Regions from separate parts of the Homo sapiens genome. Here region 2 is linked to region 1. A link means that fine-mapping ties the variant in region 1 to the plasma level of a protein whose gene starts in the linked region. Region 1 holds a variant in brackets. A gene starts in the other region. All regions are shown on their reverse strands.

Region 1 (6,291 bases):
GGGTTCACGCCATTCTCCTGCCTCAGCCTCCCCAGTAGTAGCTGGGACAACAGGCGCCCGCCATCACGCTTGGCTAATTTTTTGTATTTTTAGTAGAGACGGGGTTTTACCATGTTAGCCAGGATGGTCTCGATCTCCTGACCTTGGGATCTGCCCACCTCAGCCTCCCAAAGTGCTGGGATTACAGGTGTGAGCCACCGAGCCCAGCCTTTTATTTTATTTTTTTAAGACAAGGTCTTGCTCCATCACCCAGGCTGGGGTTAAGTGGCATGATCACAGCTTGCTGCAGCCTCAAACTTCCAGACTAAAGCAATTCCCCCAAGTAGCTGGGACTACAGGCGCATGCCACCTTGCCCGGCAAATTTTTGTATTTTTAGTAGAGTTGGGATTTTGCCATGTTGCCCAGGCTGGTCTTTTTTTAAAAAAATTATTTATTTATTTATTTTTGAGATGGAATCTTGCTCTGTCACCCAGGCTGGAGTGCAGTGGCATGATCTCAGCTTACTGCAACCTCTGCCTCCCAGGTTCAAGTGATTCTCATGCCTCAGCCTCCCGAGCAGCTGGGATTACAGGCATGAGCCACCACACTCGGCTTATTTTTGTATTTTTGGTAGAAACAGGGTTTCACCATGTTGGCCAGGCTGGTCTCAAACTCCTGACCTCAAGTGATCCACCTGCCTCAGCCTCCCAAAGTGCTGGGATTACAGGCATGAGCCACCAAACCCGGCTATTATTTATTTATTTATTTTTGAGACACAATCTCCCTCTGTCACCCAGGCTGGAATGCAGTGGTGTCATCTTGGCTCACTGCAACCTCCGCCTCCTGGGTTCAAGTGATTCTCGTGCCTCAGCCTCCCAAGTAGCTGGGACTACAGGTGTGCACCACCACACCCAGCTAATTTTTGTATTTTTAGTAGAAATGGGGTTTCATCATGTTGGCCAGGCTGGTCTTAAATTCCTGACCTCAGGTGATCTGCTCACCTCGGCCTCCCAAAGTGCTGGGACTACAGGTGTGAGCCACTCTGCTCGGCCGGTCAGCTCATATATTACCTGCAAAACCCAGTCCCATTGTACCTTTCTCTGGCTGAGTCATGGATTCAAGCCTTGCCTCAGTGACATGGGAAGCAATGATGACCGGCTATGCCTTCTCCCCTGCCTCCAGGGCACTTGTATTTCAGTAGACTGGGGAAGACTTCGGGGATTCCAGGAAAGGTCTTGTCTAATAGGTAGAAGGAAGTGGACTCTGGGACAAGGTCCCTTTGTTCAAACACCAGCTGTGCTGATTTTTGCTGTGAGTCACTTGGTCTCAGTTTTCTCATCTGTGAAACAGGAATAATAGCAGCTCCTCTCAGGACTCATGGCCCGGAGCTTTGGTAAGCAGGAGATTGTCATCAATGACCCTCACTCCTCTCTCCTCTCTTCCCAGATACTCTGACCCATGGATCCCCTGGGTGCAGCCAAGCCACAATGGCCATGGCGCCGCTGTCTGGCCGCACTGCTATTTCAGCTGCTGGTGGCTGTGTGTTTCTTCTCCTACCTGCGTGTGTCCCGAGACGATGCCACTGGATCCCCTAGGGCTCCCAGTGGGTCCTCCCGACAGGACACCACTCCCACCCGCCCCACCCTCCTGATCCTGCTA[C/T]GGACATGGCCTTTCCACATCCCTGTGGCTCTGTCCCGCTGTTCAGAGATGGTGCCCGGCACAGCCGACTGCCACATCACTGCCGACCGCAAGGTGTACCCACAGGCAGACATGGTCATCGTGCACCACTGGGATATCATGTCCAACCCTAAGTCACGCCTCCCACCTTCCCCGAGGCCGCAGGGGCAGCGCTGGATCTGGTTCAACTTGGAGCCACCCCCTAACTGCCAGCACCTGGAAGCCCTGGACAGATACTTCAATCTCACCATGTCCTACCGCAGCGACTCCGACATCTTCACGCCCTACGGCTGGCTGGAGCCGTGGTCCGGCCAGCCTGCCCACCCACCGCTCAACCTCTCGGCCAAGACCGAGCTGGTGGCCTGGGCGGTGTCCAACTGGAAGCCGGACTCAGCCAGGGTGCGCTACTACCAGAGCCTGCAGGCTCATCTCAAGGTGGACGTGTACGGACGCTCCCACAAGCCCCTGCCCAAGGGGACCATGATGGAGACGCTGTCCCGGTACAAGTTCTACCTGGCCTTCGAGAACTCCTTGCACCCCGACTACATCACCGAGAAGCTGTGGAGGAACGCCCTGGAGGCCTGGGCCGTGCCCGTGGTGCTGGGCCCCAGCAGAAGCAACTACGAGAGGTTCCTGCCACCCGACGCCTTCATCCACGTGGACGACTTCCAGAGCCCCAAGGACCTGGCCCGGTACCTGCAGGAGCTGGACAAGGACCACGCCCGCTACCTGAGCTACTTTCGCTGGCGGGAGACGCTGCGGCCTCGCTCCTTCAGCTGGGCACTGGATTTCTGCAAGGCCTGCTGGAAACTGCAGCAGGAATCCAGGTACCAGACGGTGCGCAGCATAGCGGCTTGGTTCACCTGAGAGGCCGGCATGGTGCCTGGGCTGCCGGGAACCTCATCTGCCTGGGGCCTCACCTGCTGGAGTCCTTTGTGGCCAACCCTCTCTCTTACCTGGGACCTCACACGCTGGGCTTCACGGCTGCCAGGAGCCTCTCCCCTCCAGAAGACTTGCCTGCTAGGGACCTCGCCTGCTGGGGACCTCGCCTGTTGGGGACCTCACCTGCTGGGGACCTCACCTGCTGGGGACCTTGGCTGCTGGAGGCTGCACCTACTGAGGATGTCGGCGGTCGGGGACTTTACCTGCTGGGACCTGCTCCCAGAGACCTTGCCACACTGAATCTCACCTGCTGGGGACCTCACCCTGGAGGGCCCTGGGCCCTGGGGAACTGGCTTACTTGGGGCCCCACCCGGGAGTGATGGTTCTGGCTGATTTGTTTGTGATGTTGTTAGCCGCCTGTGAGGGGTGCAGAGAGATCATCACGGCACGGTTTCCAGATGTAATACTGCAAGGAAAAATGATGACGTGTCTCCTCACTCTAGAGGGGTTGGTCCCATGGGTTAAGAGCTCACCCCAGGTTCTCACCTCAGGGGTTAAGAGCTCAGAGTTCAGACAGGTCCAAGTTCAAGCCCAGGACCACCACTTATAGGGTACAGGTGGGATCGACTGTAAATGAGGACTTCTGGAACATTCCAAATATTCTGGGGTTGAGGGAAATTGCTGCTGTCTACAAAATGCCAAGGGTGGACAGGCGCTGTGGCTCACGCCTGTAATCCCAGCACTTTGGGAGGCTGAGGTAGGAGGATTGATTGAGGCCAAGAGTTAAAGACCAGCCTGGTCAATATAGCAAGACCACGTCTCTAAATAAAAAATAATAGGCCGGCCAGGCACGGTGGCTCACGCCTGTAATCTCAGCACTTTGGGAGGCCGAGGAGGGTGGATCACGAGGTCAGGAGATCGAGACCATCCTGGCTAACACGGTGAAACCCCGTCTCTACTAAAAATACAAAAAATTAGCCAGGTGTCATGGCGGGTGCCTGTGGTCCCAGCTGCTCCAGAGGCTGAGGCAGGAGGATGGCGTGAACCCAGGAGGTGGAGCTTGCAGTGAGCTGAGATGGCGCCACTGCACTCCGGTTTGGGCGACACAGTGAGACTCCATCTCAAAAATAACAATAATAATAGGCCAGGTGCAATGGGTCACGCCTGTAATCTCAGCACTTTAGGAGGTGGAGGCGGGCAGATCACCTGAGGTCAGGAGTTGGAGACCAGCCTGGCCAACATGGTGAAACCCCGTCTCTACTAAAAATACAAAAATTAGCCTGGCGTGGTGACATGCGCCTGTAATCCCAGCTACTTGGGAGGCTGAGGTACGAGAATCACTTGAACCCAGGAGGTGGAGGTTGCAGTGAGCCAAGATTGCACCACTGCATTCTAGCCTGGGTGACAGAGCAAGACTCCGTCTCAAAAAAAATATATATATATAAAATAAAATAAAGTAAAATAAAATTGCCAGGGGAGACCAAGACGTGGGTGGTGGTGGTGAATCCCAGGTGCTCTCTGAGCCTCAGTTTCCCCATCTGTACAGTGGAGGTGCAGAGGTGCCTGTGATGCCTCCCTGAGGCCCAGGTGGGAGGGTGGAGGGGCATAGGGTGGGGAGGGTGTGGGGGGCCTGAAGAGTCTCTACCAAACCCTCTGGTGACCCCGGGCCTGAGCCAGCCTTGCTGGGCCCATCACTCACCTGCCACCCACACCACACACCTGGGCCCCTCTCCCCACCACCTGGCTGCAAGCCACGGGTCCTGGGAGGGGGACGGGGCCCTCGGCAGGCCAGGCCAGGGCTTCCTAACAGGCTGGGGCAGGCCCAGTCCCCAGGGGGTAAGAGGTGTGGGGACAGGCTGCTCTGTCCTCTGACGCCCCTGGAGCCCCTGTGGTCTCCGCCTCTACCTCAGCTGATGTCAGAGTGAAGAGCTCCCTTTCCCAACTTCTCTTTCTCTGCCTCTGGAATTTCCTCTGAGGCTTAGAGGGACATGGAAACCCTCCCTGGGTCCCACGAGGGCAGAGGCCCAGCCACCTGGCCGATGTTGGGGGGCTCTGGCCTGCCCCCTCTGGAACCCCAGCACTGCCCTCAAACCCCCATTGCCTCCCTGTATGCCCCGGATCTCACATGTGGTTCATGGCACGCCCAGCCCGTGGGGCCTTCTCCCTCCTCCTGGGCACCAGCTGCCCTTGGCTCCCAGCCCTGGGCCCCAGGGGGAGAAAAATTTCCAGCAGGCTGGCAGCTCCATCTCCCACCCAGCCCTGGCCAGGGAAGGCACTGGAGGGTCCAATGAGGGCCAAGACCCCAACGAGGTGCACAGATGGCCTAACTGCCCCTGCAAGCCTCAAGCAGGTCCTAGCTTGCCCTGAGCCTGAGGGAAGAGGTCCTCATGATACCCTACTCTGGGCTCTGGGCTCAGCTCCTTGGCAGGGAGGTCCCACCTGGCACTGGTATGGTGAGCCCTGCTCAGAGAGGACCAGGAAACCTCTCAAGTCACACAGCAGTTTCAGGATGAGCACACGTTCTCTCTGGCACCATCCCTGAGGTCAGCCCAAGGTCCTCCACCCTCCCTTTGCCCAGCGATCACATCGATGGAATGACTAGAGCCCTACTGTCCCTCACTAGAGACCTACCTTTGGATTTTGAATCCTTAAGAAACAACCCAGCTGGGGGCGGGGCGTGGTGGCTCACGCCTGTAATCCCAGCACTTTGGGAGGCCGAGGCGGGCGGATCACAAGGTCAGGAGATCGAGACCATCCTGGCTAACATGTCTCTACTAAAAATACAAAAAAAAAAAAAAAAATTAGCTGGGCGTGATGGCGGACGCCTGTAGTCCCAGCTACTTGGGGCAGGAGAATGGCGTGAACCCAGGAGGCAGAGCTTGCCATGAGCCGAGATCGTGCCACTGCACTCCAGCCTGGGCCACAGAGCGAGACTCTGTCTCAAAAAAAAAAAAGAAAAAAAACCCAGCTGGGCGGAGTGGCTCATGCCTGGCCTCTAATCCCAGTACTTTAGGAGGCTGAGGCAGACAGATCACCTGAAGTCAGGAGGTCAAGATCAGCCTGGCTAACATGGCGAAAACCAGCTCTATTAAAAAAATACGAAAGTTACCCAGTGCCGTGTCACGCGCCTGTAGTCCCAGCTACTCGGGAGGCTGGGGCATGAGAATCGCTTGAGCCCGGGAGGCATAGGTTACAGTAAACTGAGACTGTGCCACTGCACTCCAGCCCGAGTGACAGAGCAAGATTCCATCTCAAAAAAAAGAGAGAGATAGGGGTATCTCTGTTTTCCCTAGGCTGGTCTCAGACTCCTGGGCTCAAGCGATCTTCCTGCCTCTCCTTCCCAAACTGTTGGGATTACAGGTGTGAGTCACTGTGCATGGCCTCAGAAGTCTTTTTTTTTTTTTTTTTTTTTTTTGAGACAGAGTCTTGCACTGTCGCCCAGGCTGGAGTGCAGTGGCTCAATCTAGGCTCACTGCAAGCTCCGCCTCCCGGGTTCACACCATTCTCCTGCCTCAGCCTCCCAAGTAGCTGGGACTACAGGCACCCACTACCACGCCTGGCTAATTTTTTTGTATTTTTAGTAGAGACAGGGTTTCACCATGTTAGTCAGGATGGATGGTCTTGATCTTCTGATCTCGTGATCTGCCCACCTCGGCCTCCCAAAGTGTTGGGATTACAGGCGTGAGCCACCACGCCCGGCCCCCAGAAGTCATTTTTTTAATAAGTTACAGTCAACCTCACCAGTCAAGGAA
Region 2 (8,134 bases), not on the chromosome of region 1:
CTTGCCTGAAATTTTTTTCTTTTTTCTTTTCAGATGAGTAGTTTACAGAGAGAGACATACAATCAAATGTCACAAATCTTCCCACTCTACAGACACTATAGATATGTGAACCCCACCCTGGTGTTTCCAGGATCAGAGAATTTTGAACAGTCAGAGGGGAAAAAAAAAAAACTTCAAAAAATAAACTAAAAGTAGAGAAATACTAGCTGGGTCTCCACATTTGTAAACACCTACAGTAAGCAGTTCAGTGTAGCTTCAGAATAAGGAATTTAAACATGAGTTAGAATACAGACCATTTTAATCGGCTGTTAATTGGTAGCTTTTCCCTTTAACAAAGAGTAGCTATCCGCTGCACTATGCTATTCTAGGCCCACCCAGCAATCAGTCCAGTTGTCTGGGTTCCCAGGAACACTTCTGAAATGTCTGCTCATAAAGGTCCCTGACCTGTGCGCAACCGTCACAGAAGAAGACTACTTCCTGAGCCCCTAGGCACTGCCCTACACTGCTCCTCAAGTAACACAAGAGGCAGTCTACTTCCTGTCCTTGCTGAAACACAGAGCAGGACTTGAGGAAAGCCCATTTGCCAAAGACAAATTCAGTGATGCTAAGTTGGAATAAGGGGAACTGGTCCTTTCCTAGGATTTCTTTCTCATCATAGCTCCCTGGCATCAAGGAAGGTAGAGTTACTTTCTGCTTCTCATGACTGATCTTCCCCCCTACGGAAAAGCTGAACAGTTCAAAAGAGAACACATGACACTTGGTCAATAGCGAACTGGAAGTATACAGCAAGCACAGCCTAGACTGGTTCTTAAGTTACCCACTCAGAATTTAATGAGAAGATCCAGTTCAGGCACCAGACACAAGGAGCTACCCTTGAGTGGGAGCCTGTGTCCCAAACGATCACAGGAAAGAAGAGCTATGTTTGAGATCAGTTACCACAAGTATCAAGTACATAAGTTTACAAGCCACTTGGCATTTAAGGTCAACACGAGATTCTGAAGGCATACTACATGAACAAAGGTCTTGGCTGCAGTTAAGGTTTAGAGTCTGGCTAATGAGGGTTCTATGTAAAAAGGTACCTAAATTATACATGAGACCAGCATTAGCCTCTTGACCTCACTAAGTGAAAAGTCTTTGTAAAGCACCTATGCATATTTGTAGTACAGCGAACTATCATAGTTTAAAGACCGCTTAACAGAGCGAGACACCTATTCTACTTGGACACAGCTAGTTTTCGGGGTCAATCCATCAGGCGGTACTCGTCCTCTTCTGCTTCTTACGTAACTTAGTGAGGCATCCTCCTAGCACTTCTAAGTGCTAAATATTCAAGGACCATCATCAAACTTCTCCCCAGAATCTGGACTAAGTGCTGATTTTAAACATCACCTCTAAATATTATGAATTTAGGAAGTTGCTTAAGTCCCCCAAAGATCAAGGATGGGGTATGATCATCTTTAGAATGAGAGACCCTACCCTAAGGATTGAGAGTCAATGTCTAAAAGGGAGACTATTGTTGTAGAAAAGTAAATGATCATTATTCAACTTTACCTTTTATGGAAACACACAATTTCCTAGTATGAAATGTTTATAAACTTGAGGTAGGCCAGGCGCAGTGGCCCACGCCTATAATCCCAGCACTTTAGGAGGCCGAGGCAGGCGGGTCACCTGAGGTCGGGGGTTCGAGACCAGCCTGACCAACATGGAGGGACCCCCCCCCCCCCACCACCACCACCACGAAAAATACAAAATTAGCCGGGCATGGTGGCGCATGCCTGTAATCCCAGCTACTCGGGAGGCTGAGGCAGGAGAATCGCTTGAACCCGGTAGGCAGAGGTTGCGGTGAGCCGAGATAGTGCCGTTGCACTCCAGCCTGGGCAACAAGAGCGAAACTGCGTCTCAAAAAAAAAAAAAACCTTAGGTAAACAAATCAGAACTTTGGAAGCTGACGAAAGCTTTTTCTTCTCAGGCCCTGTGCCCAAGTAGTTAATTGTATCAGTCTCATTTTCTTCAGAATTAACTGAGCCTTCTCCCATTTCTTCCCCAGAATCCTAGAGACAGCCTGAGTCACTGAGGTCCAGGTGTCCTCATTGCGCAGCAACCCAATTCCCAGAGTCACTTTACAAACATTCCGCAGTCTCTGGAACCCGCATGGCGAACTTGAAGGGTAAGGCTGAAACCTAAGTCCCAGCCTCCACCATGCGTCCCCGACTCCCTGGACCTGAACGCCTACTGCTCAGAGGGCAATCGTTTTAGTGTTTCTATTTGAGCACCCGATAATTCAGAATAAACTCTCAAACATGTTGTGAAAGCCCCCCGGTAGGGCTCTGCACGCTAGGACCAACATTTTGCCACACCCACCATTTCCTGGGCACAGACAGTCTGGGCAGGGAGGGGCATTTGATTCGGAAAAGCTTAGAGTTTGCAGTCTTTGCAAAGCCGGGTCATGCCCACTCAGGCCATGGGGCAAGCACCATTTTCTGTGGGATCAGCAACCAGACAGCGGCTGCAGCCCGGCCGCAGCTGGTCCCGGTGGAAGAACTCATTCGCGCTCCACAGCGAGATCTCCTCCAAGTCCAGCCTCAGCTGATGCTCAAAAGGGGCCGGGCCAGCCAAGCTGTGGGTCCCGGGAGGCGCCCTATGCAGTCCTGGGAAGTCCCTTCGCTCCCCCGCGGCCGTGATCTGGGGAAGGGTGACGGGGCTCCAACCCCAATTAGAGAAACTGGAGCGGCCGTCTGGTTTGCTGAGCGAGCCCCTCCGCCTCCCCTCGCAGCGGGACCTGGTGGGACTGGGGTGACCAGACTGCGGCTCGTCACCGGATGGGGCTTACTCTGGGGCCGCAGAGCGCAGGCGGCGGAGGTGCGACGGCGGCGAAGCCCACGAGGCTCCGCAGAAGGTGGCCCGTGCCGCCCCGGGGACGTGTGTGGGTCTCGTAAGGTGCTGCCAACCTTCCCCGAACGCCAGCGCCCTCGATAATCAAAGGCGACTGCCCCGGGCCCAGATCGCTGCCCGCCGCCCCGCTCCTGGAGGGCAGAGCACAGGCTGTGGGGCTCTCCGCGCGCGCCCCGGCCCGGTCCCGGGGAGCCGAACCCTCTCCGGACCGCGCCCCAAGCAGCGCCCGGGCGCCCTCTCCCCTGCCCGGCCGGAGCCGCGTCCCCCGCGCCCCGCGCAGCTCACCGCTCGTTGGCTGGCTCCGGACGGCTGCTGGCGAGGAGGTGCTGCGGGCGCCGGCGGGGCGGTGGCTCCGAGCCTCAAATACTCCCAGCCCCGCCCGGCCCGCCTCTCCCGAGGCGGGGCGGCGCCCCTGCCCAGCCAGTCCTCTCCCCGGACCAGGCTGGGCGAGCCCCGCGCCGGCCAGACACCCCGAGCCGCCGCCGCAGGGGCGACCAGGAAGCTCCCGACGGGGAGAGCGCGGGCACTGAGGGGCGCGACCTCCGCTGCCACCGTTAGGTTCCGTGGCGCTCCCGGGACCTGGGCTGCGGCCGCGTCTGTCCCCCGCCCTCTCCAGAATCACCTGAGTGAAGAATTCGCTGAGAGGAATTCAATTAATAGGTTGCTTTATTTGTAGAATACAAAACCAAAAATCTTTTCAATGTCTATTCCCTAGGGAACTGACTACAAATTGACTACTTATTCTAGATCAATAGGCCTAGTCTCAAAGCAATTCCCTTATAAAGCAATTAATCAGACAACTCTTTAACACATTTTACACAGGAAATTCACATTATATATATATATACCCTCCTTTTAACTTCACCTTATCTTTTTGTTGGAAGAAAGAGATAAGTATTATTATCTCATTTTTACTGTCAGGGTGCTATAGTCTGAATGTTTATATCCCGCCAAAGTTCATATGTTGAAATCCTAACCCTCACGGTGATGTATTAGGAAGTGGAGGCCTTGGGAAGTGATTAGGTCATAGGGGCAGGGTCCTTATGAATGAGATTGGTGCCCTAATAAAAGAGGCCGGAGAGAGACCCCTTGCCACTTCCACCTTGTGAAGACACAGCCAGAAGGCTCCCTCTGTGAACCAGAAAGCAGGCCCTCACCAGACATCAAATCTGCTGGCCTGGATCTTGGATTTCCCGACCTTCAGAACTGTGGGAAATAAATGTATATTGCCTATAAGCTACCCAGTTTATGATATTTTGTTACAGAAGCCCAAACAGACTAAAAGAGAAAATGATTTACTTATCCAAGCTCACTCATGTCTAGGAACAAAATCCAGAAATCCTGGCTCTTACACTTTACCTGGAAAAGCACCAGGCCAAAGAATCCTTGCAGGTTGGAACAAGGATCTCTGAGGAAAAAAAAAAAAATTAAGGGGGGTAGGGGAAGAATCTTTGCAGGGACTGGCTTATGTAAACTATGGAGAAAACCAGGTATCATCTGGTTCCTAAATAATTCCTGTAGCCCTTATAGTAACCAATTAATAACATAAAGATAAATTATTTCCTGCAGTTTTTCAACTTAGGGAAATGTTCCTGTGAAGGACTCACTTGATGGAATTGAGAAGCTGTCTTGGCATTCTCTAGGATAAACTTGAAAGTGTCTTAGTGGTTGGCACGGTTCCTGCAACATCGTCCCCTCTAGGCTTGCACATAGAAGTCACAGTGTGGCTGGGGATTATTTATGCAAGTTTGAACTCTTATCTGAAGAGGTAGCCTGGCAACCAATTTATTTGAATGGATCACCCATAGTAAATGACTAACCTCTGGGTAGTAAAAAGGTATCACCCAAAGGAATGCCCTTGGTCTCCAGGGAAAATGCTATAAATCTTAAGACTTTGAGTCATGAGGCCTCATGGCCAGGAGTGGTACCCTTAGAGGGTTAGCCATTGGTAATAAGAAAAGTAGATAGCCAAATGAATTGCTGTGGAGGCAAGGGATGAATCACACTCTTGCCTTTTCTTCTGGTCATTTCAGAGATAGACAAAGTTCATGCCCTGGCTACTTAGGGGGCTTGCTTACACCTGATTGTATGATCAGACATGCTTTTGGCTTCCCTTCCTTACTTGTACATCCCCATGAATACTTTGGTGCCAACTTCATGCCCCATAAAGCTAACAAAAGGATCCTGCTATGATCAGGGTGTGCCTGGGAATTTATAATTTGTACACATGCAATAAACGGCTCTTTATTACCCAATCCAAAGTCACATCCCTTTTCTAAGATAAGCGTAAAAAGGAACCCAATAAAATCAATTAAGATATCATTGAGTAACTTCTATGTACAGCTCACTGTGTTATTTGAAATAGGGACAAGGCAAGTGTTAGCCCTCAAACAAAAAGGCTGTCTGGTTTCTACGGATGCAGAGATTGTAAGCCGCTGATAAAAGCAAGGATTCTAAGAGAGGCATCTCCACAGGAGGGAAAGGAGGAAACTTGGGAAAGCAGGTGGCTGTCCAGAAGGTCAGGAGGGAAGCTGCGTGAGAACTTCAGTTAGAGCCAGAAGAGAGTAGGAGATGAAGATGAGAACAAAAAGGGAAAGTCTTTAAGGATAAGCAGAAAAGAGAAAGAAAGACAGTAATTGGAGAAGAAAGCAGAGCCGATTATTTATTTATTTATTTTATTTTTTTGAGACGGAGTTTTGCTCGGCTCACCGCAACCTCCACTCCCAGGTTCAAGTGATTCTCCTCCTGCCTCAGCCTCCCCAGTAGCTGGGATTACAGGCATGCACCACCACCCTGGCCAATTTTTAGTAGAGATGGGGTTTCTCCACGTTGGTCAGGCTAGTCTCAAACTCCCTACCTCAGGTGATCTGCCCACCTCAGCCTCCCAAAGTGCTGGGATTACAGGCGTGAGCCACTGCGCCCGGCAGCAAAGCCAGTTTTTTAAAGTCACCTTTTAAATAGGAAAATAGAACCAGAGAGAAAGGAAAAAGAGAGGAGAATAGAAGAATTATGAAAATATAAAAAGTGAGTGAACCTGGAACAAGCCAGAAAAGAGGAGAGAAATTTCCCAGAAATTAGCACTACAGTGGGCCAGATAGGGAAAGAATGTCTCACAAAAGCTGAAGTTCCTATGAAATATAAACAAAAATCTTGGTATTAAGTCGTGTAGACAGCAGAATACAGGAACAGCCAGAAAAGAGCAAAGCGGCTGCTTTCCAGTTTTCACATTTGGACCCTGGGCAGCCCAGGCAAGTTTGGCAATTCTGTGTCTACATGGTGTTAACACATCTGGGTGACAAGTGAAGAGTTGAGTCAGGCCTCAGGGCACTTGGTCTTTCTGGTGCCAACAACTGGAATCTGGGTGGCTGGCAGACTTAGGGACTGAAAGAGAGGCTGAGTGTTCTGGGGAACCATTTATGCCTTGAAGACAAAGTAATTTCCAGTTTCAGAACGAAATGACTGTGGCTGTCTGCTGTTTCTAGTCCCAGTTATCTATATGTACTTACTCATATCCAAGGCCTTTAGTGGGGGCCTAATATATGCCTCAACTATTTTGCAAAATCCACCCCTTCTAGCTTGCTGAATGAACAGGCTCACCAAAACCTGGTCAACAAATGAAATAGGGTTGGTGGCAGTAATGTGCCCAATGATGGTTTACAAGGTCTTACCACCTGGGTTGCAACTAGAGCCCCCTGGGACAGAGTGAGAGCCAGAACCTGCTTAGAAGGGAGCTAGCCCCTCCTGCCTTGGATGGGCAGGCCAACAGCATCAGGGAGAAGAGGTGTCCCAGGTGCCACCGCAGGTGCAAAACCCCTTCTCCAGCCCAACCTCAGCCCTGGCCACCTCAGCCTAACCTTCCTTGTTTGTCCTTCAAGCCTAACCCAGGCCTGTCTTCAGCACTAGCCATCACCAAACCCACATTCCCACCAGTCACTTCTGTCTATAGACAGGAAGTGGCTGCTGCCACTACTACTGCCCTTATTGCAGCCACACCCAGGGCTACGCTCTTAACCACGCTACAGCATTAACCTGCCTCTTGAGGAAGTATAAAACCAGGGAAAGGGATAGAGAGTGTGCCAGCTTGCTAAGGCTGCCATAACAAAGCACCAGGAACTGAGTAACTTAAATAACAGAAATTTATTTTCTCCCAATTCTGGAGGCCAGAAGTCCAAGATCAGATGTTGGAAGGGTGGGTTTCTTCTGAGGCCTCTCTCCTTGGCTTTTACGTCTCTCTATATCTTCACATGGTCTTTCTTATATGCCTGTCTGTGTCCTAATCTCCTCTTGTTAGAAGGACACATTCGTATTAGATTAAGACCTCATTTTAACTTAATTGCCCCCTTAAAGGCCCTATCTCCAAAAACAGTCACATTCTGACGTATCCGGGGCTCGGATGGTACTGACATAAATGTTTTTGCAAAGAGAGAGGGACACAATTCATCCCATATCAGAGAAGGGCAGGGGAGGAGCTGGCTGTCAGTTCAGCAAGTGTGGTCAGCAGAGATTTCTCCAAGGAGGTGGTATTTGAGCTGAGACCTAAATAAGGAGTAGGGGCAGGCTTGTAAAGATCCGAGAAAGTGGGAATGGCAAGAATAACACTGTGAGTTGCAACAGGGACCTGTGCCAGCATAGACACCCATGGGGCACCTCCTGTCCACTCCTCTCAGAATCCCCTCCCTGCCATCCTCATAAAGTGGCCCGGCAACCGAGCTAGCACTTCATGACCTCTCACCTTAAGTGGAGTTGGGAGAATTGTGGAGTCCTAATTGGGGGCTGGGGGAAGTGGAGAATTGGGCTGGTGGGATCAAGGGAAAGCAAAAAGAGACAGCAGGCTGGGCGCGGTGGCTCACGCCTGTAATCCCAGCACTTTGGGAGGCAGAGATGGGTGGATCGCTTGAGGTCAGGAGTTCGAGAACAGCCTGGCCAACATGGTGAAACCCCATCTCTACTAAAAATACAAAAATTAGCCAGGCATGGTGGCAGGTGCCTGTAGTCCAGCCTGGGCAACAGAGTGAGATTCTGTCTAAAAAAAAAAAAAAAAAAAAAAAGGCAGATAAGCTATAAGTCTGCCTTTCTTCATGGTCCAGGACACATAGCCCTCTTGCGCAAATAACTCACAATCTGCCTGCTCCCAGCTCTCTCTAGACCCTTGGCTGATAGAAAAAATGCACGTTAGCTCACTGCAACCTTGGCATCATCAGTACTACACAAAACTCTTCAGCACGCAGCACGAGCTCCATCCTAT

Which allele goes with the higher level. Positions count from the first base shown, and alleles are read on the strand shown. Strength reflects both the effect of a copy and how common the allele is.
With allele T in place of C in region 1, the plasma level of the protein whose gene starts at base 3,223 in region 2 is higher (weak association).

The links. PIP is the posterior inclusion probability: the model's chance that the variant is causal. The UK Biobank Pharma Proteomics Project read protein levels with antibody pairs (Olink). The fine-mapping took linkage between variants from a reference panel, not from the people measured, so its PIPs are less certain.
Region 2: LGALS3 starts here. The variant in region 1 is fine-mapped to the plasma level of the LGALS3 protein (UK Biobank, PIP 0.92).

The regions. Positions count from the first base shown.
Region 1 is chr19:5,839,987-5,846,277 of GRCh38, reverse strand. It overlaps FUT3 (fucosyltransferase 3 (Lewis blood group)), which reads left to right. Exons shown (of 3, transcript NM_001382750.2): 3 at 1,427-3,390. The coding sequence starts at 1,439. The coding sequence ends at 2,524. Among named protein-coding and RNA genes, the nearest start is that of FUT6, 3.4 kb to the right of the region's middle. The variant C/T (reference allele first, on the strand shown) is at 1,640.
Region 2 is chr14:55,124,341-55,132,474 of GRCh38, reverse strand. LGALS3 (galectin 3) reads right to left here and starts at 3,223. Exons shown (of 6, transcript NM_002306.4): 1 at 3,175-3,223. It overlaps LOC124903319, which reads right to left. Exons shown (of 3, transcript XM_047432036.1): 3 at 7,008-7,425. The coding sequence ends at 7,371. RefSeq lists an enhancer at 2,388-2,577 and a silencer at 2,928-3,527.